Regions from separate parts of the Homo sapiens genome. Here regions 1 and 3 are each linked to region 2. Evidence: fine-mapped expression QTL. A gene starts in region 2. Each other region holds a variant in brackets. All regions are shown on one strand. Distances are from middle to middle.

What was found.
Region 1: its variant is fine-mapped to the expression of TCP11L1 in whole blood (INTERVAL, PIP above 0.99).
Region 3: its variant is fine-mapped to the expression of TCP11L1 in uterus (GTEx, PIP 0.95).

Annotation. Positions count from the first base shown.
Region 1 is chr11:33,072,977-33,081,157 of GRCh38, reverse strand. TCP11L1 (t-complex 11 like 1) reads right to left here. Exons shown (of 10, transcript NM_018393.4): 10 at 7,608-8,181. It overlaps LINC00294 (long intergenic non-protein coding RNA 294), which reads right to left and starts at 5,008. Exons shown (of 1, transcript NR_015451.1): 1 at 1,704-5,008. It also overlaps the pseudogene PIGCP1. The variant T/C (reference allele first, on the strand shown) is at 3,097.
Region 2 is chr11:33,036,229-33,044,409 of GRCh38, reverse strand. TCP11L1 (t-complex 11 like 1) reads right to left here and starts at 4,838. Exons shown (of 10, transcript NM_018393.4): 1 at 4,618-4,838; 2 at 474-660. The coding sequence starts at 636. RefSeq lists enhancers at 4,018-4,337, 4,818-5,167, 4,888-5,435 and a silencer at 4,438-4,837.
Region 3 is chr11:33,900,570-33,908,750 of GRCh38, reverse strand. It overlaps LOC105376621 (a long non-coding RNA gene), which reads right to left. Exons shown (of 3, transcript XR_931176.3): 2 at 1,916-2,142. Among named protein-coding and RNA genes, the nearest start is that of LMO2, 13 kb to the right of the region's middle. The variant G/C (reference allele first, on the strand shown) is at 4,181.

The sequences.
Region 1 (8,181 bases), 37 kb before region 2:
TTGCTGGACCCAAAGAAATTGCCAAAAGATATCCATCTTTTTCCTGTTTATAAAAGCAATGACAGCATCTCCTCAAGATTCTAGAACTAGACAAAAGTTTCAAGGACTATATGTATGTCCTTCCTAAACAAAAATTAGTCAAACTCTGGCCTTTACCACTAAACTTCAAACAAGAGGTTGCACCTATGTGGCCACATCTAGTACAGTAAAAGGTTAATAGAAACTACTAGTAAACTTTCTGAACAACCAAACTGTACCAAAGAAAAAGAAGGAAAAACACATCATTTCTGTTAGTATATTGACCCTGGTCAATAATTATGAATTTATTTGATATTATAACCCTGTATTGGCCTATAGTTAATAAATGTTGAGTTCAATTTTATTAAACCATAGTCATCATGGTCATAAATTATTATTATTATTTTTTTTAACATGGTAGTTCTTTGACTGTGGCAATGAGCAAGTGAACTTACGTTTTACTTAATAAAAATTTCAGCCAGGCACGGTGGCTCACATATATAATCCCAGCACTTTGGGAGGCCAAGGCGAGCAAATCACCTGAGGTCAGGAGTTCAAGACCAGCCTGGGCAGCATGGTGAAATCCTATCTCTACTAAAAATACAAAAATCAGCCGGGCATGGTGGCGCACACCTGTAATCCCAGCCACTCGGGGAGGCTGAGGCAGGAGAATTGCTTGAGCTTGGGAGCTGAGATTGTGCCACTGCACTCCAGCCTGGACAACAGAGTGAGACTCCATCTCAAAAACAAACAATCAAAACAAAAGAAAACAAAAATTTTCATAAGTCTTTTTGTTTGTTTTGAGACATGATCACAGCATAATCCTCCCACCTCAGCCTCCCAAGTAGCTGGGACCACAGGCATGCACCACCATCCACCATACCCAGCTAATTTTTTAAATTTTATGTAGAAACAGGATCTACCTGTGTTGTCCAGCCTGGTCTTGACCTCCTGGGCTCAAGCAGTCCTCCCACGTCAGCCTCCCAAACTGCTGGGATTAGCCACCATGTGAAGCCCTTCTTTTTTTTATTTTTTATTTTCTTGAGATAGGGTCTCACTTTGTCACCCAGGCTGGAATGCAGTGGCATGATCTTGGCTGAATGCAACCTCTGCCTCCCGGGCTCGAGCAATCCTCCCACTTCAGCCTGCTGAGATGGGAGCACAGGCCTATGCCACCACGCCTGGCTAATTTTTGTACTTTTAGTAGAGACAAGGTTTTGCCATGTTGCCCAGGCCGGTCTAGAGTTCCTGGCCTCAAATGATCTGCCTGCCTCGGCCTCCCAAAGTTCTGAGATTACAGGCGTGAGCCACCTTGCCCAGCCCCTCTTGTTTTAAGGTTACTTTTAAGTCAAGAAAAGTGACACTCCATCGAACCAGGCCTATAGCTTAGTTCTGGTTCTTAAGTTCGGTAGGCAATAAATGTAAGTCAGGTGTGACAGAAACCCACATGAGGGACAGTTTTAAGTAGAATTATATGTTTAGACTTTTAACACATATTTTGTAGAACTCTGGCTATTTCTGAAAGTACCAGTGAACACTTGATCGTTTAATAAACAGAGCTTACCTGGGCTTAAAGATTATCCCCTTCCCCACCCATTGAAGTTGCTTTGAATACTATGACTAAAAAGGCTTTCCATTAAAATAATTATATAATGCAAAATCCAATATAAATACACACTTGCAAATATCATTGTAGTTATTTATTTAGATTGTTTTTAAATGAGATAGTGCCTTTAAATATGACTTCATAGCCCATTATCCATTACCATTCATTCATCCACTCATTTGTTCATTCATGAATTCATTTAGTTCAAATAATATAGAGGTGGAGATGGGGAGAAATCACTGGGGTGGGGGTGGATGTCAGGAAGTAAGCAAATGTAAGACTGCAGCTCTAGTATAGAAGAGATGATGAACATAAACAAGTCTTAGGAGAGGACAGGAAGAAAACCTTCCCTGTAGGCCCGTAAAATGTGCTTGAATGAAGGGAGGTTGGGCGCTACCAGTGGAACGTAACACCACAGCAAATGTGCGCCCACAGGTAGAGGGTTACATGTTCGCCTTTGTAGTTAAAAAAGAAAGGTATAGTCCTTTTCCATGTACAAAGCATTCTATCATTCATTACCAAATGTAATCCTCACAGCAACAGTGTGAATTAGGAGTGTTCCCATTTAACAATGAAAATGCCGAGGCCTTGGGGAGAATGGCTGGTCCAATGTTGTACAACCGGTAAGGCGGCGATAGAGGAGAAAAGACTAAAACCCAGATCTTTCTCTAAATTAGGAGCTTTGTGCACAATCCTGCTACCACCAAATGTTAGAATCGGAAGGGAGCTTAAAGACCAAGTCTAGTCCTTTCATTTTAAAGGAGTTGGGAATGGGCCCTGATTTGCCCCAGCTGGTACATAACAGAGTGGAGATCCAAGCCTTGGTTTCCTGACAGCTCCCAGTCTTTCCACTCTACCACCTGGCCTCAAAATGAAAAGAAACACAAATGTTCTACCTATAAATCAGAGCTCGCCAAAAGGTCACTAGAAATCAAACAGCAAACACCTATTCTCTTTGAAATTCACCAGCAAAGCTGGTGGCAGCAACATTTCCTCTATTCCCAGGAATCTTAAGGCTTTGGAGAAATGAGAATAAGCACCTCCACAAAAACAGAACCGCTGAATAATCCATTTAGAATCTTGGCCAGTATGTGCATACTATAGGCCTATTAAGTCAAACTTATTAATAGCTTTTCTTCACAGAGAAAAAAGTTCATATATACCTACTGACTGCATTTGATCAGTAAGATATCATGTCAGTGTCCTTCTTACCTGAAGTACATTTATGGCTGGGTCATATCGTGACATAAATAATCACATTTTGTAGCTTGCTTTAGACGGAATGCGATTTTTTTTTTTTTTGAGACGGAGTCTCGCTCTGTCACCCAGGCTAGAGTGCAATGGCGCAATCTCGGCTCATTGCAACCACCACCTCCAGGGTTCAAGTGATTCTCCTGCCTCAGCCTCCCGAGTAGCTGGGATTACAGGCACGTGCCACCACACCCGGCTAATTTTTGTATTTTTAATAGAGA[T/C]GGGTTTTGCCATGTTGGTAAGGCTGGTTTCGAATTCCTGACCTCAGGTGATCTGCCCGCCTCAGCCTCCCAAAGTGCTAGGATTACAGGCGTGAGCCACCGCGCCCGGCTGGAATGAGATTTTTAAAAACACCAGGACTGAGAATCCATCCACCCAACCAAGAGCCAACAAAGTAGTAGTTACTTTAAACATTCACTTATCCATGAGACTACTGAAGAAATCCAAGAGGCTTGGTGATACTGACCTCACTCTCAGTTCTATCCACAAGTAGTAAAGTACTGCCAAATACACTTAGCAATTTCAGGAAAAGACACTTGTCTCCACAACCTGTTACTGAATGCAGCATATAGAATCCATTCGATTCTGGAGGACAACACACTCCAAAGGATGTTTCGTTTTGGAAGGAGAGCTGTAGGGGAAGGTACAGGGGGATGCTTAGCAATGCTTCCTGAGTGACTAAATGAACGAAGTGGATCTCCCTGGCCCTTAGTAATAATCCTATGAGATTCCAGGAAGAAAATTAGCTTATCTTCATAGAGCAACAACAAAATGATTCAATATGAATATTGTGGTTCTGAAGTTTGCTTCCTTCATTCTTGACTTTTGCCAGTTGCAGAACTCCACCAGTGGACACCGAGGTAGTGGGCGGCCAAGAGTCTGTGAAGCCAGTTATTCATGCATCAAGATTTCAAACGGTCCAAATGGAACTCTGGCAATGTAAGAACTCAGGAGGGGAAAAATATCTTGCAAGAATCTACTCTTACAAAAGAAGAGTTTTTGAGATTTAGGAAGAATGACTGCAGGAAGTGGTGATCAGCGCTGTGCAGTTGGGGTTAAGCTCCTCTCCTTCAGCCTTGGAGCGGCAGGAAAAGGCCCCAAACACTCTGAGGCTGAGGCTTCTCTGCCCAGGAACCCAGGATCATACAACCGCCAGGCACAGTGGCCACAGAGCAGCCTCCACCTTAAGGGAACAATTCCAGACACGACCTCATTGAATACACCATGGAAGATGTTATCTTCTTTAAAAGTACCCTCATGGCAGGGCGCAGTGGCTCACGCCTACAATCCCAGCACTTTGGGAGGCCAAGGCGGGTGGATCACGAGGTCAGGAGATCGAGACCATCCTGGCTAACACGGTGAAACCCCGTCTCTACTAAAAATACAAAAAAATTAGCCAGGCATGGTGGCAGGCGCCTGTAGTCCCAGCTACTTGGGAGGCTGAGGCAGGAGAATGGCGTGAACCTGGGAGGCAGAGGTTGCAGTGAGCCGAGATCGCGCCACTGCACTCCAGCCTGGGCGACAGAGCAAGACTCCATCTCAAAAAAAAAAAAAACCCTTACAAGGAAAAAGGCAGGCAACTGCCATCTCCCAGTCACGCATCCCCAGGAACTTGGCTGTATTATATCCTGCCTCAGAGACAAACTCATCTATTGTAGGCCTGGCCTGGATTGCTGCCTTTGAAAACAAGGAAAGGTCAGCAGAATATCAACCAAGGCATGGAATTTCCAGGGAGGTCTCATTTCAAAATGTCATCAACAAGAACCACATGGACCTCTGTGAGAGGGATGATTAAACTAGCCTGAGTTTGAATGAAAGGATTATGTGTACCCAACCTGTAACAAACACCAAGGAGGTAAAGTGGCAGAGGGTCTTGTATGAGCAACAGCCCTTTCCTGATAACTTTGTGGACCGGCGGTTCCTGGAAGAGCTCTGGAAAAACATCCATGCTCGGAAATACCAATATTGGGCTATGGTATTTGAGTCCAGTGTGGTGATCCCGCAGCTGTGCAGTGTTTTTGTTTTTCTGGTTATCTGGTGGTATATGGATGAGGGTCTTCTGGCCCCCCAATGGCTTTTTGGGACTGGCCTGGCTTCTTCACTGATTGGGTATGTTTTGTTTGATCTCACTGATGGAGGTGAAGGGCAGAAGAGTGGGTGGACCCGGTGGGCTGACCTGAAGAGTGCCCTAGTCTTCATTACTTTCACTTATGGCTTTTCACCAGTGCTAAGACCCTGACAGAGTCTGTCAGCACTGACACCATCTATGCCATGTCAGTCTTCATGCTGGTAGGCCACCTCATCTTTTTTAACTATGGTGCCAATGATGCCTTTGTATCCACTGTATCCAGCACACTATCCTTGAACATGGCCATCTTTGCTTCTGGATGCTTGGCTTCCACCTTCCCCAGTCCCTGCATGTCTTCATCATGGGAACACTTGCCATCCAGATTTTTGTCCTGTGGCTCATGCTACAGAAGAAACTAAAGGCACGGACTCCCAAGGGCTATGTGGTGGTCACACTGCTTTTTGCCTTTTCGGTCTTGGAAGGCCTACTGCCTATTAGTGCTGTGGGAGCCGTACTCTTTGCCCTTCTGTTGATTTCTATCTCATGTCTCTGTCCATTTTACCTCATTCGCCTGCAGCTTTTTAAAGAAAATATTCAGAGGCCTTGGGATGAAGCTGAAATCAAGGAAGACTTGTCTAGGTTCCTCAGCTAAATTAGGGACATTCTGATAGACTAGCCTCCTAACTAGTATAAAACTTAAAGACAGGCCGGGTGTGGTGGCTCACGACTGTAATCACAGCACTCTGGGAGGCCCGAGGCGGATGGATCACGAGGTCAAGAGTTCGAGACCAGCCTGGCCAACATGGTGAAACCCCGTCTCTACTAAGAATCCAAAAATTAGCCGGGCATGGTGGCGCGTGCCTGTAATCCCAGCTATTCAGGAGGCTGAGGCAGGAGAATCGCTTGAAACCGGGAGATGGAGGTTGCAGTAAGCTGAGATCGCGCCACCACACTCCAGCCTGGGTGACAGAGCAAGACTCCGTCTTGAAAAAATAAAAAATGAACCAAAGGCTTGGGTGGTGAGGGTGCTTATCCTTTCTGTAATTCTGTGGATGAAAAAGCTTTCTGGGACCCTCTTGAATTATTCGCTGTAACAAATGAAGTGATGTGGTTTCTATTAAAAAAATAATAATGCATTCAAACAAACAAAAATAAATAAATATGAATAAAAGTACCCTCACAAAATGCAGCCAGTCTGCCAGATTACAGTGACCCAGATTCTCCAGTCTCCTGCCTGGGACCCAAAAAGATACATCTGGCTCTACTTTTTTTTGTTAAGGAGAGACAGGGTCTGGCTCTGTCACCCAGGCTGGAGTACAGTGGCATGATCATAGTTCACTGCAGCCTCAAACTCCTGGGCACAAGTGATCCTTTTGCCTCAGCCTCAGCTTGTAGCTGGGAGTACAACTGTGTGCCACCACAACAGGCTAATTTTTTTTGTATTTTTTGTAGAGACATGATCTCACTATGTTGCCTAGGCTGGACTTGAAATCCTGGGTTCAGATGATGCTCCTGCCTTGGCATTCCAAAGTACTGGGATTATAGTGTAAGCCACCATGCCCAGCCCTGTTTTTTGTTTTGTTTTTTTAATTTATCACATCATTATAGATTAGAACCAACATCAGTGCTGATCTGCATACATGTAATTTCTACCTGAGTTTCTATAGCCAGATCCAAGTCCTTGTATAAACCCTGGGACCATCAGCAATCTCAAAAATCCTGAAAGCAGAATGTATTCTGACTCTACCAGGTCTGAAATCCTTCTCATGGAGTATCTGATTTCCTCCCCATCAGTCCTATTGGAATACCTACCCAACTGCTTCTTCAAGTCTTCCTTCAAAACACAAAATCACTGCACTTCCTTACAAAGAAGGATCAGAGAAAACAGCTGCTTGCAGTAAAATGTAGCCCTTCCCCCTGGTTGTGCAGGAGTGGCTGCTGGCCTTCCTGGAGTCTTTCTGAAATGGCTTCCAAGTTTCTTTTCTTTTTTCTTTTTTTGAGACAGAGTCTCACTCTGTTGCCCAGGCTGGAATGTAGTGGTGCTATCTCAGCTCACTGCAGCCTCTGCCTCCCGGGTTCAAGCGATTCTCCTGCCTCAGCCTCCCAAGTAGCTGGGATTACAGGCGCGTGCCACCACACCCAGCTAATTTTTGTATTTTTAGTAGAGATGGGGTTTCACCATGTTGCCCAGGCTGGTCTCAAACTCCTGACCTCAGGTGATCTGCCTGCCTCGGCCTCCCAAAGTGCTGGGATTATAGGCGTGAGCCACCACGCCCGGCTAACTTGTAAGTTTCTCTTAGCTTCCTGTACAGAAGGCTTCAGGTGCCGATATTACTGCATTACTCATACAGTAATATAGTCTTACCCCTTGCTGTTGTGGCAGTTGGTCATTCCAACTTCATGGCTCTGCTTCTAATATAACATCCCTGTCTAAAATGCAGACATACATGTGTACACTTTAAAAAAAAAAAAAAAAAAAAAAAAAGAACAGATCGTCTATGAGACCCAAATCACTCACGCTCAGAGGACATGTCAGGAATTCTGGTCACTGAAGTTCCTTGAAAAATAATGCTCAAACACCAGGGATTTCCTATGACTTCCTCATCTAGGAGATTCGTGAACTCAAGCTATTTTATCTGAAAACAGTTAAATCTAATTCCAGAATTTAATTCAATCATCACATCTGTGTATTGTCTCAGGGTCAATTTTTCAGTAAGAATTCCAGACATTTCTCTTCGTTCACATTACAGTAAACTATTTTTCAATACATTTCCTCCTTGACTTTCAAGGCTTGAAAGTCAAAGACTTTCCTTTCACTAGATCTCATAAGTCATAACTGCTCTCAACCAGATGCAGGAGTAATTTTGTATAAAAGAACAAGCTTTTTAAAGTCCAATAACTGTATCTTTGGGGGAAGGTTAAAAGAATGTTTAAATACAAAAAAGAAAGTAAAAAAAAAAAGAGAGAGAGACAAATAACTCTCCTCTAGAAAAAAGGGCTTGGGAGCCCTGGCTAGGCCAGGCAGGGAGGAAGCAATAAATAGGGGGAGAAAATGGCAATAAGACGTTATATAGCCCTTCTAACAAAAATACCAGAAGGGAGGGGTGAGGGACAAGGCTGTCTGAGGGAGGGCAGGAGGTGAGGCCATGGCTTGGTCTCTTTTGCGCTTGGATGGCCGTCAGCTCAGCATGAGGCATCTGAAAGAACTACCCAGATTGCAGAAGAGAGAGGTCCCAGC
Region 2 (8,181 bases):
AAATGACTTCACCACACACATTTAGCAAACTGAATCCCCTCAAGCTTGTGGGAACTAAGCCCCCAGGCAGAGAATTAGGGTGTGGTGAACTTACTCACATTTTTTTTTAACCTGCACAAGCACAGTCCTGGCTGGAATTAGCCTCAGACTTTTCAAACACTCTTTCAATACAAGCTGCAATTTATACTCCACCCTCCTATTTCTCAGAGCACTTCAGAGACTGGAGTGTCACTGAGGCTGGAGAAAGACAGGAACGTTCTGGACATTATTCTAAATTGTTAATTTCCCATGCAATTGAAAATCCACAAGTAGCTAGGCTGCCAGCTGAGGAACTGCTATTATTCCTAAATGCTACATTGGCAATGTTATATTATTAGAACCTAGCTCACGGCCACATGCACAAGGAGGCCTCATAAAACCGTCACCTGAAAACAATGACAATATTGCATCTAACCAAAGTCAAATTTGCTTACAGTGAGGTCTCTGCACTCTTTGGGGGCTGGAGGAGTCTGACTTTATTGCTTTTTGTAAGGCTTCATCAGCACCTTCCACAGCATCTTCGAGGCCTTCCTCAGAATCATTGGATTTTGATTTTCCTGCTTCATTTACATTGGACTTGTCAAGGTTTTCAGACATTCTCAATTAAGTTTATTCACTTTCCTAGGAAAGAAAAAAACAAAAAAAAAGAACTAAAAGTATTCTAGCTCTGTCACCAACTAGCAATGTGACTCAGGGCAAATCATTTAACCTCTTTGGGTTTCAGTTTTCTCGTTTGTAGAATAAATGAGCTTGCTAAGATCTTATCCAGCTATATTCTACTTCAATGACTAAACAGATACTTGTAAAATGACATTTGTAATTTATCAGATTTCTGGATCTCACGTAGTAGTTAGTTGGAATATTTTTGTCCTACTCCTAAGTAGCATGTTTCAAGAATACAGGGCCTTAAACTATTAGAAGACACACTCTAAACTACCTGCTGCTACAATTTTAATCAGTGATTCAATCTTAAATTCTTTACTTTCATTCCTAAGAGCAGATAGGTAAACTCCTTGGAAATAATGCTTTTAATTGGGCTTACAAGTGAATACACTGGGCTAAAGGGTTGATTCCTTGATATTATCATGTGAATAAGATACCCAGAGATGACAGAAACTAGAATTTTTTTTTTTTCCAGATGGAGTTTTGCTCTTGTTGCCCAGGCTGGAGTGCAATGGGGCAATCTCAGCTAACTGCATCCTCCGCCTGCTAGGTTTCAGCAATTCTCCTGCCTCAGCCTCCCAAGTAGCTGAAATTACAGGTGGGTGCCACCACGCCCAGCTAATTTTTGTTTTGTTTTGTTTTGAGACAGAGTTTCGCTCTTTCATCCAGGCTGGAATGCAGTGGTGCGATCTCAGTTTACTGCAACTTCCACCTTCCGGTTTCAAGTGATTCTCCTGCCTCAGCCTTCTGAGTAGCTGGGATTATAGGCGCCCACCACCATGCCTGGCTGATTTTTGTATTTTTAGGAGAGATGGGGCTTCACCATGTTGGCCAGGCTGGTTTCGAACTCCTGACCTCATGATCCACCTGCCCTGGCCTCCCAAAGTGCTGGGATTACAGGCGTGAGCCACTGCGCCTGGCCTAATTTTGTATTTTTAGTAGAGACGGGGTTTCACCATGTTGGTCAGGCTGGTCTCGAACTCCTGACCTCAGGTGATCCACCTGCCTCGGTCTCCCAAAGTACTGGGATTACAGCCATGAGCCACTGCGCCCTACAGAAAACAGAATCTTATGAAATGTTTAAGAGGAATGTGTGGGGCAAATATTTTTATTACCTTCTTGCCAGTAATTAGGAAAAAGATTGTGAGTAAGAAGCTGCAAACAACCATAATGTATGCAGTTGGGTGGGCTTTTTATTAGTTGCTGATCAGAATAGCAATAACACTTGACACTGTGCTTTGGAGCAGTTAATAAAAGGTCTGCCTGGGCCTCCCAAAGTGCTGGGATTACAGGCATGAGCCACCGTGCCCAGCCTAAAACAGGCCTAAAACAGGCGGATCATGAGGTCAAGAGATCGAGACCATCCTGGCTAACACGCTGAAACCCCGTCTCCACTAAAAATATTAAAAAATTGGCCTGGCATGGTGGCGGTGCCTGTAGTCCCAAATACTCAGGAGGCTGAAGCAGGAGAATGGCATGAACCCGGGAGGCAGAGCTTGCAGTGAGCCGAGATCGCACCACTGCACTCCAGCCTGGGCAACAGACTGAGACTCTGTCTAAACAAACAAACAAACAAACAAAAAAACCCTGTTTTAATTACAGTAAAAGTTTTAGTCAATTCCTCCACTCTCCCTTTTCCTAGGGTGTTTCTGGGAGAGAAGACACAATGTTTCTGCATTTGCTGAAAATAATTAACATTTGTAACATCAGCACTTGAAGATCACAAAACATTTTCATAAACACTAATTAGACTTTCTTACACACATGGAAGGTAATCAGGTGATCAAAAGAAATGTCAACTGATTTAGGGAGTTTGGCAGACTGTGTTCTGCATATTAGAGAGAGGTGAAGAATCACCTGATAGAATTATGTGAAATTTCAGAGAACTCCATTAAATAGAATGAAGTTACTGGGATTGAAATATTCAGGCCTGTTTTTTTGTTTTTTTTTTGGGGACAGACTCTTGCACTGTTCCCCAGATTGAAGTGCAGTGGCACCATCTCGGCTCAGCTCACTGCAACCTCTGCCTCCCAGGTTCAAGGGATTCTTCTGCCTCAGCCTCCCCAGTAGCTGGGATTATAGGCGCCCACCACCACGCCTCGCTAATTTTCGTATTTTTAGTAGAGATGGGGTTTCACTATGTTGGCCAGGCTTGTCTCGAACTCCTGACCTCTAGTGATCCGCCCGCCTCAGCCTCCCAAAGTGCTGGGATTATAGGCGTGAGCCACTGCACCTGGCCCAGGCCTGTATTAATATGAAAGTTGTTTTCATGTATTTTCCCTTTCGAGACCCATCTTAGCTTCCAACACCCCACTGGAGACACCCATCTCCTCTGTGTCCTAAATCCTATTAGGGTCAGGAAATGCTCCAAGATCCAAAGGATAACATTACCAGCATATTCTGTGAGAAACGACAAACAAAACGCTGCTAATTTTATTATCTTCACATGCTGAGAAGGAGCCCAGGAGGGATGAAGTAATTCATTCTGTGCAGTGAGGAGGAAAGGGAGGATTTCTAGGTCTCTAATGCTCAGCTTAGTAAACTAACCCCATCCTTAAGATTGAGTTCAAGTCCTGTCTCTTCCCAGGACACTTCCCGGACCTCACCAGTGATTGCACCTTTCTCAACTCCTGCAGGGCTGGCTAGTTGACATTTGGCATTTGTCACTGCCTTAAATTCAATTCAAAGCGTGCTTATTTAAATAGAAAGATGCAAATACATAGTCTAGAGGGGGAGGCAGACAGGCTTACAAGGAGCCATAATGAAACTTAAGTGGCATTATGAAATTGCCCAGGGAATATAGCAGAGGAAGAAACTAACTCTGCCTGGGAGGAGATTGAGAAAACCTTCCCAGAAAAGATGACATTTGAACTGATCTTTAAAAGGAGTAGGATTTCACCTAGTTAAAACATGTCTGGAGGGGGAGAGGAGGGGGAGAGGAGGTGAAAAGGAGGGCATTTCACTCAGAGGGCAGAAGCCAAGGCACAAGAAAATGAGAAAAGGAAGTGGCTAGAGATGATGGAAAGATGCGTTGGGGCCAGATGGTAAAAGTGCTAGTTTTTATTTTAAAATTCCCCACCTAGATTTCGAACTTCTTAAGAGCCAGGACCAGTCATATTCCCCACTTATGCTCCATCTGTATATCCCCCAAATAGACACCCACAAGTATCTGTTGATAGAGATGAATCCCTACGTCATCTCTGTGATGTCACTGTATCTGGGAGGCTGGGCGTTGGTTTCAGACATACCTGGGCCCCAATTCTGGCTCTTTACTAGCTGTGTAACTTCAGTGTCCTCCTCTGTAAAACACAGCTACCTACCTGCTCGGTTTGGGGGGAGATGAAACGAGGGATTGTGCACGGCAGGCCTTCTACAAATGGTAACTCTAATTAAAGGGCTCTAGGATGCGGCCACGAACCATTTAATTTGCTTATATCGCGCGCATCCATTCAACCCCCACTGTGTCTAAAAAGAGAGCCGAGGGGAGGAGGATCCTCGCACTTGCCAAGAAGACGGTCATCCGTCGGCGCTGCACGCGGGCCTAGGCTGGACACAAGAGGCTCCCCAGCAGAAAGGGTCTTTCGGCAAAAGAAAAAAGGGGCTCTGTCCCCCGGCGCCGGGAATCCCCTCCTCTGGCACTGAGCTCCACTCGCGCCCGGCGTCCGGATTCCGTTGTAAACAGCTGTTCAGGCCAGCGAGGGAGTGGCAGGGCCGGGAGTAGGGGAGGACGCGGGCGCGCCGAGAGGACAGCCTCGAGGGGTGAGCTCCACCCGCCCGCGGACCCCGCCTCTTCCTCGCCTGCCCCCGACATCCCGGGATGGGATCCGACGGGAAGAGGCGAAGAGATGCCTGCGACTTGGACCGCGCGCCTCCCGGACGGGCCCCGCCAGCCTCCGCCCCAGCTCCCGCTCTCACCTGCCACGGAGTCGGCGTTCTCCCTCCTGCCGCTCCCGCCGCGAATCAGGCGCGGGCTGGCGCCGCGGCGGAAGCCGGAGGGATGCGCGGCAGGCAGGGGCGGTTCAGCCTCTGCCCCTCCGAGGCCGCATCCCTCGCCACGCGGCGGGCGGTCCTCCCAGCCCGACTCGGGTGGGCAGCGGTCAGAGCGGCCGCTTCTCAGCATCAGGAAGGAGGAGACTGCTCTTGGCCGGGAGGCGCCAGCCCAATATAGGGCAGCGCCATGTCTTCGTACGGAAAGGCGGGAGGGTCTTTCCCCTGCTTGCCGAAGGGGTTCAGTAAGCGGTGACTCGCAGCTGGGCGGCGCCGTGTTTCCTCAGGGAGAGGTGGAAAACATGGCCGATGACCGCTCAGGGGGCTCCGTGGCCAGTGGCTCCCAGCCAAGAGTCGCCCGCCGCACGCAGTGAGGCGCCATGTTTTCGTACGGAAACGCGAGAGGCATGGCCGAGTGCCCGCCGATGAGTCTCAGCTGGCGGTGGCTCGAAGCTGGGGATGGCCCGCCCCTAGGCGCCATGTTTCCATACGGAAAGACGGAACGCGCGCCGCATCCCAGCCGCTGGTGCGGGTGACGCGAGGAGAAAGGGAGGCGGAGAAGGCGCGGGTCAGTCAAAAGAAGGAATAAGAAGCCATTGCATCTGAAACCTTCCCCGCCCGTTCTTTGAAATTTAATTTTGCCATCCTGTTTGTAGCTACACAAAGTTTATTCCCCTTCTCTCATTTCCTCAGCTTTAAAAAAAAGTTAGTCCGGGCGCAGCAGCTCACGCCTGTAATCCCAGCACTTTGAGAGGCCGAGGCGGGCGGATCACGAGGTCAAGAGATCGAGACCATCCTGGCCAACATGGTGAAACCTCGTCTTTACTAAAAATACGAAAATTAGCTGGGTGTGGTGGCGCGCGCCTGTAGTCCCAGCTACTCGGGAGGCTGAGGCAGGAGAATCGCTTGAATCTGGGAGGCGGAGGTTGCAGTGAGGCGAGATCGCGCCACTGCACTGCGGCCTGGAGACAGACCGAGACTCTGTCTCAAAAACAAACAAACAAAAAAAAACTACAAAAAAGCAGATGGGGTGACATTGGTGCTTTCAAACACTGCTTCTAAATAGATCACATGTGGGTAGTTATTGCTAACGTATTGAAGGCCGAGTGCAATACCAGACCCTCAAACCATTTACTAACTTGCACATTAAAGTCTTTGCTTTAAAAAAAAAAAAAAAAAGACAAAAACAGAAGTTCTCTGGTGAAGATTCACTTTTTGGAGGAAAAAACACCAAAAACCCTTAAGATACTCAACTAAATGGAACTGTTAAGATCTACAAAGAATGGCTGGGCGCGGTGGCTCACACCTGTAATCCTAGCTCTTTGGGAGGTCGGAGGTGGGTGGATCACAAGGTCAGGAGTTCGAGACCAGCCTGGCCAATATGGTGAAACCTCGTTTCTACTAAAAATACAAAAAAATTAGCCGGGCATGGTGGCATATGCCTGTAATCCCAGCTACTTGGGAGGCTGAGGCAGGAGAATTGCTTGAATCCGGGAAGCAGAGGTTGCAGTGAGCCGGGATCGCACCACTGCACTGCAGCCTGGGTGACAGAGTGAGATTCCGTCTGAAAAAAAAAAAAAAGATCTGCAAAGAAAACATGCAGTTCTTCTGAGTCTAAACTCGTACCATTAAGTCTCTAGTGTTTTTCAGCCCTGACTACAAATACAACTTGGAATCTCAGGGGCAGGGGTTGGAAAAGTATCATCCAAAACTCCGGGGAGGGTGATGCCAGACAAGTTTTAAAAGCTCCCTGGGGAAGCAGGCTAGAACCTTCCTTAAAAGATTAATATGGCTGGGTGCAATGGCTCACGCCTGTAATCCTAGCTCTTTGGGAGGTCGAGGCGGGCGGATCACCTGAGGTCAGGGGTTCAAGACCAGCCTGGCCAACATGGCAAAACCCCGTCTCTACTAAAAATACAAAAATTAGCTGGGCATGGTGGCAGGCGCTTGTAATCCCAGCTACTGGAGAGGCTGAGGCAGGAGAATCCCTTGAACCCAGGAGGCAGAGGTGGCAGTGAGCGGAGATCGCACCCCTGCACTCCAGCCTGGGAGACAGCGAGACTACATCTCAAAAAAAAAAAAAAAGGTTAATATAACCAATTTTCACTTGGTTAGGAGCAAGTGAATGAATATACTCAAGTTCCACCTGGAGAGGATACTGCAACAATACCAAAATCACTGATTTAATTTGGGATATTTCACTTGTAATCTTTTAATGTTTTGTACTGTTTCAATATTCAAAAAATACATATAGACACATTCCATTTTGATCTTTGGCTGCAAGGACTGGAAATTCAAATTACGTTAAGGTAAAGGGAGTTCACTGCAAGGACATAGGACTTGGAGGGAGAAAGGTGGCAGCCACTCTAGAGGTCGGCTACTGCTCCTGTACACACAGGATCCCTCTTGTCACATCTCTGCTTGCTGTAGTCCATTCCACTCTTTATGCTACAGGCTGGTTTCTGTACTTTCTTAATTGACGCGCCTCATAATTTAAATTTACCTATATAGAATTTGATTGGCCAAACTGATTTTTGAACAAAGTTAGTCTCATTAGCCTCCAGGGAAGCTGCCCTTGGATCAGGTGCTCAACCTTGGTCTACTCTGCTAGGATGATGGCAAGACTTACGGTCAACTAGGCATTAGGTGTCTATGTGGGAATGGGTCCCCAAGAAGGCGTCATGGGTGAATGAATGAGAGCACACAGCAAAAGATAATCAACAGTTCTAGTGACTGAGGAGGGTTGCCCAAGGCTTTCAAGGTAGCACTGGACCTGTAGTTTAAAACCTTGACAATGGTTGCAGTAAACATGATCGATTTTTCTTTTTATCCTCCTTATAAGGCCTAAGGTAAATTGATTTTACTAGTATATTTTCCCTGAAATTATCATTCTATTAGAATGTTGCTTCTCCTAGAAGCATGAATGTAACTAAGCAGTTCTGCCTTCCCCTGAAGGTTGTCAAATAAATATGCTATTCAATTATGTGCAAAATAAAGGTTACAAATCAGATAGCACACGGTTGCTCTGCCCACCGTGCTGATCTCACCACAGTTCCAGTAGCTTGTTTCTGAAAACTTCCTCTCACATTTAAATCATAAACTTATCTTCTTTTTCCCCTCACTGTAAAGAGAGCTGCCTTCCCCTTTTTTTTTTTTTTTTTTTTTTTTTTTTTTTTTTTTTTTTAAGAGGGAGTCTTGTTTTGTCGCCCAGGCTGGAGTGCAATGGCACGATCTCGGCTCACTGCAACCTCCGCCTCCTAGGTTCAAGAGATTCTCCTGCCTCAGCCTCCCGAGTAGCTGGGATTACAGGCACCCGCTACCACGCCCAGCTAATTTTTGTATTTTTGGCAGAGACGGGTTTTCACCATGTTGGTCAGGCTGGTCTCAAATTCCTGACCTCAGATGATCCACCTGCCTCGGCCTCTGAAAGTGCTGGGATTACAGGCGTGAGCCACCACGCCCAGCCCTTCCATTCTTACCTATCCAAAAAAA
Region 3 (8,181 bases), 860 kb before region 2:
CCACGCCAGTTTCTTTCTGCATTGTCTGTGGCCACTTTCCTGCTCAGCAGAGCTGAGTAGTTGCAACAGAGACCACATAGCCTGCAAAGCCTAAAATATTGACTTTTTAATCTTTTACAGAAAAAGTTTTCTAATGCTTGATTTAGAATATATGCTTTTGAGTTGGGATTACTGTATAATAGGATAGGCATTTCTAACGGTTTTAGTAGATAACATCAGTTCTTCAAAGTGGCTGTGCCACTCTGCATTCCCATTGGCAGTGAATGAAAGTTCCTATTGCTTCATGTTCTTACCAACACTTGGTTTTGTCAGATTTTAGACCGGGTGTGGTGGCTTATGCCTGTAATCCCAGCACTTTATTTATTTTTATTTTATTATTATTATTAATGTTATTTATTTATTTATTTATTTATTTTGAGATGGAGTTATGCTCTTGTTGCCCAGGCTGGAGTGCAATGGCATGATCTTGGCTCACTGCAACCTCCACCTCCCAGATTCAAGTGATTCTCCTGCCTCAGCCTCCCGAGTAGCTAGGATTACAGGCACGTGCCACCGTGCCCAGCTAATTTTGTATTTTTAGTACAGATAGGGTTTCACCATGTTGGCCAGGCTGGTCTCAAACTCCTGACCTCAGGTGATCCATCTGCCTCAGCCTCCCAAAGTGCTGGGATTACAGGCTTGAGCCAGCATTATTTATAATAAGGGACATTGAAAACAAATGTCAGGCAATAGAGGAATGGATAAGAAAATTATGGTTATGTTCGGATGATAAGATACAGTACAGTTATGAAAAGAAAAATTACAGCAATATGAATCAATGATTTTAATACAATTTTAAGTGAAAAAGAATGGAGTGCAATGCTACAGAAAAAAATTATATATGTGGGAAAAAATAGATTCATTGGAAAAAAGTACCGGAAGGAATATATTGTAATGGTAACAGTTGTTACGAATATAGGTGATTTTTTCTTTTCTTCGGTTTTCCAAACTTTCAGTTCTGTGTTTATGTAAGTTTATAGTAAAGACATAAGTAAGAAACCACTTCCTATTGCTGACTGGCTTCTGTTTTTCAAAGTACTTGCCATGCGCCGGTCAATATGCTAAATGCTTTACAAGTGTGATCTCATTTAATCCTCAGAACCCTTATGGGGTAGTGTTTTAGGTTATTATCTTCTTACGAATAAGAGGAGGAGAAGGAAGCTTAGAGAGGGGAAAGAACTTGCCTCAAGGCACACGGTGGGAGGCAGAGTTGGGGCGTGGATGTGAATCCGTCAGGCACCACAGCCTGTGATCTTAACCCCTGTCCCAGCCCGCTACCACTTGCTACAGAACCGTGGGGTCTTTCCGGGGAAAGTGGGTTCAAGGATGGCTAAAGTGCTATTCTGCCTAGAAGAAAGCAGGTCATTTAGTCTCTAGACCCCTCCAGTTTTCTGACTCTGATTCTCAGCCCCATCCGACACTAACTAGCTGGGTGATCTTAGATAGCAAACCTATTCCTGCAGAACCTCGGCTTCTTCTTCTGTCAAATGCAATAAACAGACCTCTCCTCATAGGTTGTTGCATTGATCAATGAGAGGATATACAAACCCACATCCTACAAAAAGGAGACACTTTGTGAATTTATTTTTCTCTACTCAAGGACACAGGAAACTTTAAAAAAGCCCCAGGCTTTTTCTGTCACTTGGCCTCTGGTTATTGTCCTGGGTGTAATGGAGTGGAAAACTCTATACACGGCTCCCTCTGACAGTGAATTTCTAATCTCGGAAAACTTAATGGTTTTTGTCAACCTGATTGTCCAGTGAGAGTGGATTAGGAGAATGACTTCCCTTGTCACTAGAAAGTTGACTTGCTTCACAGCATTTTTCCTGATGCCGGTGGGAGGCATGATCGATACAACACAGACCTCAATACTTACCTGTGGTTTCGGAAGCTGAGGACAAAGGTTGGGAGTTCCATTTAAGTGCCTTCAGCCATTTCCAACTAAACCCAGGCGTGATGTGCATTAAGCGGTTCAGGCTGGTGACCCGGAGCTCCACGGTCTGAGGGGCAAACCAGAAATCTAGCAGTTGCTTTTTCCTGACCAGCGATGCAGAGGCCTCTTGGCTCAGGCTGGATTTGTCTTCTCTGCTCCAGTTTTCCCGTCTGCAGAAGAAAGGCCCATTAGTTACTGTCTGTGCTGCAAGGGAAGGATGGCCTTGCTGGTTTCTATATCAGGACTTACCAGAAACAGTGCATGGGAGCAAAAATGGACAGGGACTACTAATGGAAACTTGGTTCCAAATCCCCTTACACACGGTCAGCCCAAGGCCCAGAGGCCACACGTTGCCTAGGGCAGCTCTTGCACCAGGCTACACTCTGCGGCAGATGGAACTGAGAGACAGACTTCAGTGTCCACCAGAATTAACTCCTGCCACATCCAGGGCAGCCCCCTCTGTCCTGGATGGCAAAACAAAGCCCTATTTTACTTGAAGCACTTAAAATCATGTTGCTTCCTTGGGGAGGTCTTCCCAGGCTTTTTAGGCTAGGTCAGGTCCCCCGCTAGCACTTTCTCTTCACTACAGTCATTATGATTAGAAACAAATGATGATCTATATCCATTAGACCACAAGCTCCATGAAGGCAAGGGTCTTTGCTTGCCTCATTTGCTGCTGATCCAAAGCATATAAACGTATTCAGGACCATAGTATGTGCTCCAAAAATATTTGTTGTATGCTTGGTATTAGTCTGTCCTCACATTGTTATAAAGAAATCCTGGAGACTGGGTAATTTATAAAGAAAAGAGGCTTAAATTGGCCCACAGTTCCACAGGCTGTACAGGAAGCATGATGCTGGCCTCTGCTTGGCTTCTGGAGAGGCCTCAGGAAACTTACAATCATAGTGGAAGGCGAAGGGGAAGCAGGCTTGTCTTACGTGGCCAGAGCAGGAGCAAGAGAGGGTGGAGTTCTCACAAGAACTCACTATCGCCACGATAGCACCAAGGTAGACGGTGTTAAGCCATGAGAAACCACCCCCATGATCCAATCACCTCCCACCAGGCCCTACCTCCAGCATTGGGGATTATAATTTGACATGAGATTTGGGTGGGGACACAGATCCAAACCATATCACATATTAATTAATAAACCAATCTAATTACTTGTTTATGTTCGTCTCCCTTATTTGAGTAGAAGCCCTATGGGGGAAGGAACTGTGTCTTATTCATCCTGTATCCCTAGGACCCAGACAATGCCTGGCATGTAGTAGATACATCATAAACATTGGAGGAATAGTAAAGTACTTAGAATTTTTATGTTGAATTAATGTAAAATTGATAGTATGAATTTTAGTTATTTAAGTACTAACACTACAATAGTTATTATAGAAAAAGAGAGTAACAGACCCGTCTTCCACTAACGTCACCACTCTTAGACAACTACTTTAGTTATTTTGATGCTTTCTTTTTCAAAGTTTTTCATTTGTGTATTTTACACACAATTTTAATCCGGTTATTTTAAGTACACATGTGCACACACATGCACACACACACACAGAAACACACATCAACAACTGCCCAGGTGGCAGGGAGTTTTGTGGATTTAATGGCAGGAAGGGAGGCCTAGTTGAATAATGTCTTTCTTATTGTTATAATTAATTATTGGCCCTACAATGGAATTGATAGCATCATGGGAACCGCGACTGAGAAGTATTGCTCTCTAAATGTTCACCCCTGGGGTCAAGGCAAATCTGGCTATGGAAAAAAATGTGCAGGTTAGAAATAATCCACAGGAAAATGCTCAGAAATCAGGGAAATTTGCTATGGCCGCGTCTCAACATAAACCACTTACGTAAACTGCAGTGGGCTTCGTGGTTCAGGATTCATTCCTCAGCCTTTTTTGTTTGGATCATTATGTGGAAATCAACCCAGTTTCTGTCTTTAAGCCCCTAGTGACATGTTGCCAACAGTGACTTCTAGGTGATTATAAAAGTGAGGGAACCACCGTATAATTGAAAAAACAAATCTAATCAAAATTCTGGTCTGCTATATTCAAAACACAATTCTAAAGGCTAGGAGGGAAAGGGTCTACTTCCCGTAAGGGGCAGCCTGTAATAGTAGAAAGCCTCTTAGCTGACAAAGAGAACTTGTGCAAACTTCTTGTTGATAAATAAGGTAGGCAGAAAGTTGAGTGGACAAAAGACTCAT[G/C]TATTGGTGGGGGACCACTTCTGGGGTTGGATAGAGGCTCTGTGTTAGTTAGAGGTAAAGAGGTATACTTTGATCTTGCTCTTTTGTGTTTTTTTTTGCCTTTTTCCGACCTGGAATAGAAAACAGGAGTAAGGGGTGAGGAAGGAGCCGATCTGAGGTCATTAACACAGCACTCCTCCAGGAGATGGTTTACATGGCAGGCAGAGGGACCAGGTGTTAGTTCTAGCTCTGCGCTCACTTTCATGTGTGAACCCTTCTCGGTCCTAGGGGTGATGATGACCTCATGCCACCTTCACAGACTTGTAAGGACTGAATCAGACCCTGGCTATAAAAGCACTTTGAAAAGCACATAAGCAAATGTTTTTAAATGAAAAGTGAGGTGCCAATGTTGCAAGAGGAAGCCATACTATTGAAAAGCCCTCATGAGGACTTTTAACATCCAAGCTCCAGCAGCCTTATAGGAGATTCGTAAGTTGAGAGCTCAGGGATTTTTGCATTCTGGAGGCACCAAGAGATAAGGGAGTAGGGTTTTTTTTTAAACATACAAAGGAATGCAAAAGTTAACAGGCACTTGATAATAGCTGAGTTTAGTGGGAAAAAACATCAGTATATGTTTCTACTTCCTGAAATTTTCCTTTCTATGATATTTATGTATTTATAAAACAAAAATGGTAAAAGAAGATGGCTAGTCATACAAACATTCTAAGAAAGTCTTCTAAGGCTAAAGAGTGATCTAATAAACAACATATTTTAACAGGCTCCATTTGTTTTTACCTTATGAATTGACTTATCCATTTAATAAATATGTATTGAGTATCCACCTAAAGATATAAGAAGGAAATAATTCACTTCTGTAGGGTGGGGATTATACTATCAAATCTATTGGGCATTGCAAAGACGCACAGAACAGACTAAAATGAAATTGCAGGCTCAAAGTGCCATTCAAATTCAGAAAGGAAACACTGCATGGTGTAGCAGGGACTAATAGTTGCTCACCAAATCCATATTTTCCTCTCCTTCCTGGGCACAAAGATAAACTATATTTCTCAGACTCCGTTCCTTTTTTTTTTTTTTTTTTTTTTTGATAGATGAGGTCTTGCTCTGTTGCCTAGGCTGGAGTGCAGTGGTGCAATCATAGCTCACTGCTGCCTCAAGTCATCCTCCTTCCTCAGCCTCCAGGGTCACTGGGATTACAGGTGTGAGCCACCACAGCTGGCTCCGACTCTCTTGCATTTAGCTACAGCTGCGTGACGGAATTCTATCCAATTGCACGAGATTGGAAGTTTCGTTCATCACTTTCAAGTCTGGCCCATAAAGGTTTCCCACACACTGCTCCTTCATGCTCCTTCCCCATCCAACTGGCTGGAATTGAGAGGACCTCACACGTTGAAGACAGCAGAGCCTCCCTCTCCCTGGATCTTTAAACAGTTACACGGGAGAAGCCTGCCCTGCCAACTGTTCACCAATCCAGTACTATTAGGGGAAAAGAAGTGAACTTCAAGGATGTGGAGTCATTATATATTTTGAGATCCCTTGTTTAAGCAGCTATTCTAATTTAACTAAGACAGCAACTAATTCTTCAACTTTTACATCTGTAAGATGGAAGGAATGAGTAGTAGTAACAGATATTTAACAGCAATGGATGCTTTTGCTATTTGTCATAGACAAAAAAGTTCAAAGGGTTTGGGATTCTTTTTATGATTGTTCCAGGGGCTGTCTTCTGGGACAATTGGTAGGATCATCTTTACACTTTTCTTTGCCTTGGTTCTTCCATGGCAAGATAGATAGATAGATAGATAGATAGATAGATAGATAGATAGATAGATAGATAGAAAATAGATTTTTTTGAAGGTAAAGTATAACCATTATGCTCTCTAAAATGGCGGCAACCAATTGAACTCCTTCATTGGCAGGTGGAGATATTAAAGCAGGATATAAGGCATCAGGAAAAACCTGGTTTTCTGTATCCCTGGTCATTGCTCTGCCAACTCACCCCTGCCCAGGTATTTATAGTAATGTCAGGCATCTTTAGCCTGAGCCTTATCCAGACACAAGGCCAATGGTATCATGGCTTCATGGTACCACAGGAACTTGCTCTTTATTAATGAGCACATGCGGTCTGGAAATAGGCTATTTTCAGCTGCTTTAGCCTTTGATTAGGATGCTGTTGGTTAATAGTGATAGAAAACTCAAATCAAGGTGATTTAAGCTAATAGAGAATTTATTGATCCATGTAACTGAAAACTCCAGGGTTAGGGGCTGGCTCTAGGCACAGCTGGATTCGAAGGCTCCAACGATGTCATTAGGACTTGGTCTTCCTGGGCCTCTCTTCCTTGCCCTGCTCTATTTCATCTTTCAGTCTTGGCTCCATACGGTGGCAAGATAGCTGCAGCAACATCAGCTACCCAAGGTGACCCTTCTCTGAACCAATCCCAGTGGCCTGGGAGGCACCATGCTTTGATTAGCCAGGCATGCTCACGTGGCCTACTCTGGAAGTTGGATGTGGGAACTCCACCAAGAACACAGGGACTAAGAGTAAGGAAGGAATGGCTTTCCAAGGGACTATCAAGGGGGAGAGATGGGTGCCAAGGAGCCAACCATGCCAAGTACCAAGAGATGAGGGGGTGCTATGTTCAGATTGTAGCTTTGTGCTGCACCTTTACACCTCCCTGCTCTGGTGGTGCTAACCCACCTCCCTGGCCCTTCTAAATCCTGGGAAGGGGGACTCAAGTCCTTATTCAGAACTCCAGCAGCAGGCTATAAATCCTGTCCCACTTGCCTGAGCCCTTTCAGCCCCTTCACTCAAGGCTAGTTTCCAGATTACCCTAACCTGGAGCTGGCGCCATGTCCTGCAGGAGACGGGAGAGGGCAGAGGGCAGCTTCGGGCTCTTAGGTAGAATTTCTTCTTTTTAAATTTTAATTATTATTTTTTTGAGACAGAGTCTTTCTCTGTCTCCCAGGCTGGAGTGCAATGGTGTGATCTTGGCTTACTGCAACCTCTGCCTCCTGGGTTCAAGTGATTCTCCTGCCTCAGCCTCCTGAGTAGCTAGGAGTACAGTCGCACACCACCAAGCCTGGCTAATTTTTGTATTTTTAGTAGAGATGGGGTTTCACCATGTTGGCCAGGTTGGTCTTGAACTCCTGACCTACATTGATCCTCCCGCCTCGGCCTCCCAAAGTGCTGGGATTACTGGTGTGAGCCAAAGAGCCTGGCCTTACATAGAATTTCTGCCTATGGATCTCACTTTTCTCTGCATTAATACTTACCGCTCTGTTTTCTGACTCTGTTGCCATCAATTCCCCATACAACTTCCTGCCTATTCCATCAGGTTGGGCTCTGTGGTTATTGTCACCTGCCTAAATTGCACTTGGGTTTTACTCACACTCCTTTGGACCTAACTGTCAAGTTCTCAAGAGAGAAGGTCCCATCTCTTTGGTCTTATCGCAGTGAATCCTTACACCACCACCATGAAATGGGCATTATAATTCCTACCTTTTACAGGTAACAGAATAGAATAGAATAGAGGCATGGCAAGCTAAAATAACGAGTCCATGGTTACACATCTGGCAAGGGACAGAACTAGGATTCAAACACAGCCGGTCCGACACTAGGGGCTGTGCTCCTAACTTCTACATGATAGTGCTCAGTTTTAGGGGGAGAGGCTCAGGTGTTACAAAGGGCTTACCCAGAGTTGGGGAACAGTCCCAGGTAGACTATGCCAAACCAAAACAGAACCATCACCAGGAGTTGGCAATGAGTTGTCAGGCTGTCCTAACCTAGAGATTGGGCTCAGCCAATGTCACCAACAGGGAGGAACTCAGACCAGGAACACAAGGGCTCAGAATCCAGTTGCTAAGGTCCGAATAACAAGTGCAGGTGCCCAAATCTGGGGAGGGCAGGGCCGGGGAGAAAGGTGATCTGCCAGGAGGCAATTGACCTGCCCCCTTAAATGCAGATGTTTCCTTCCTCAAGTGCATATCTTGGCTCATGATTCAACCCC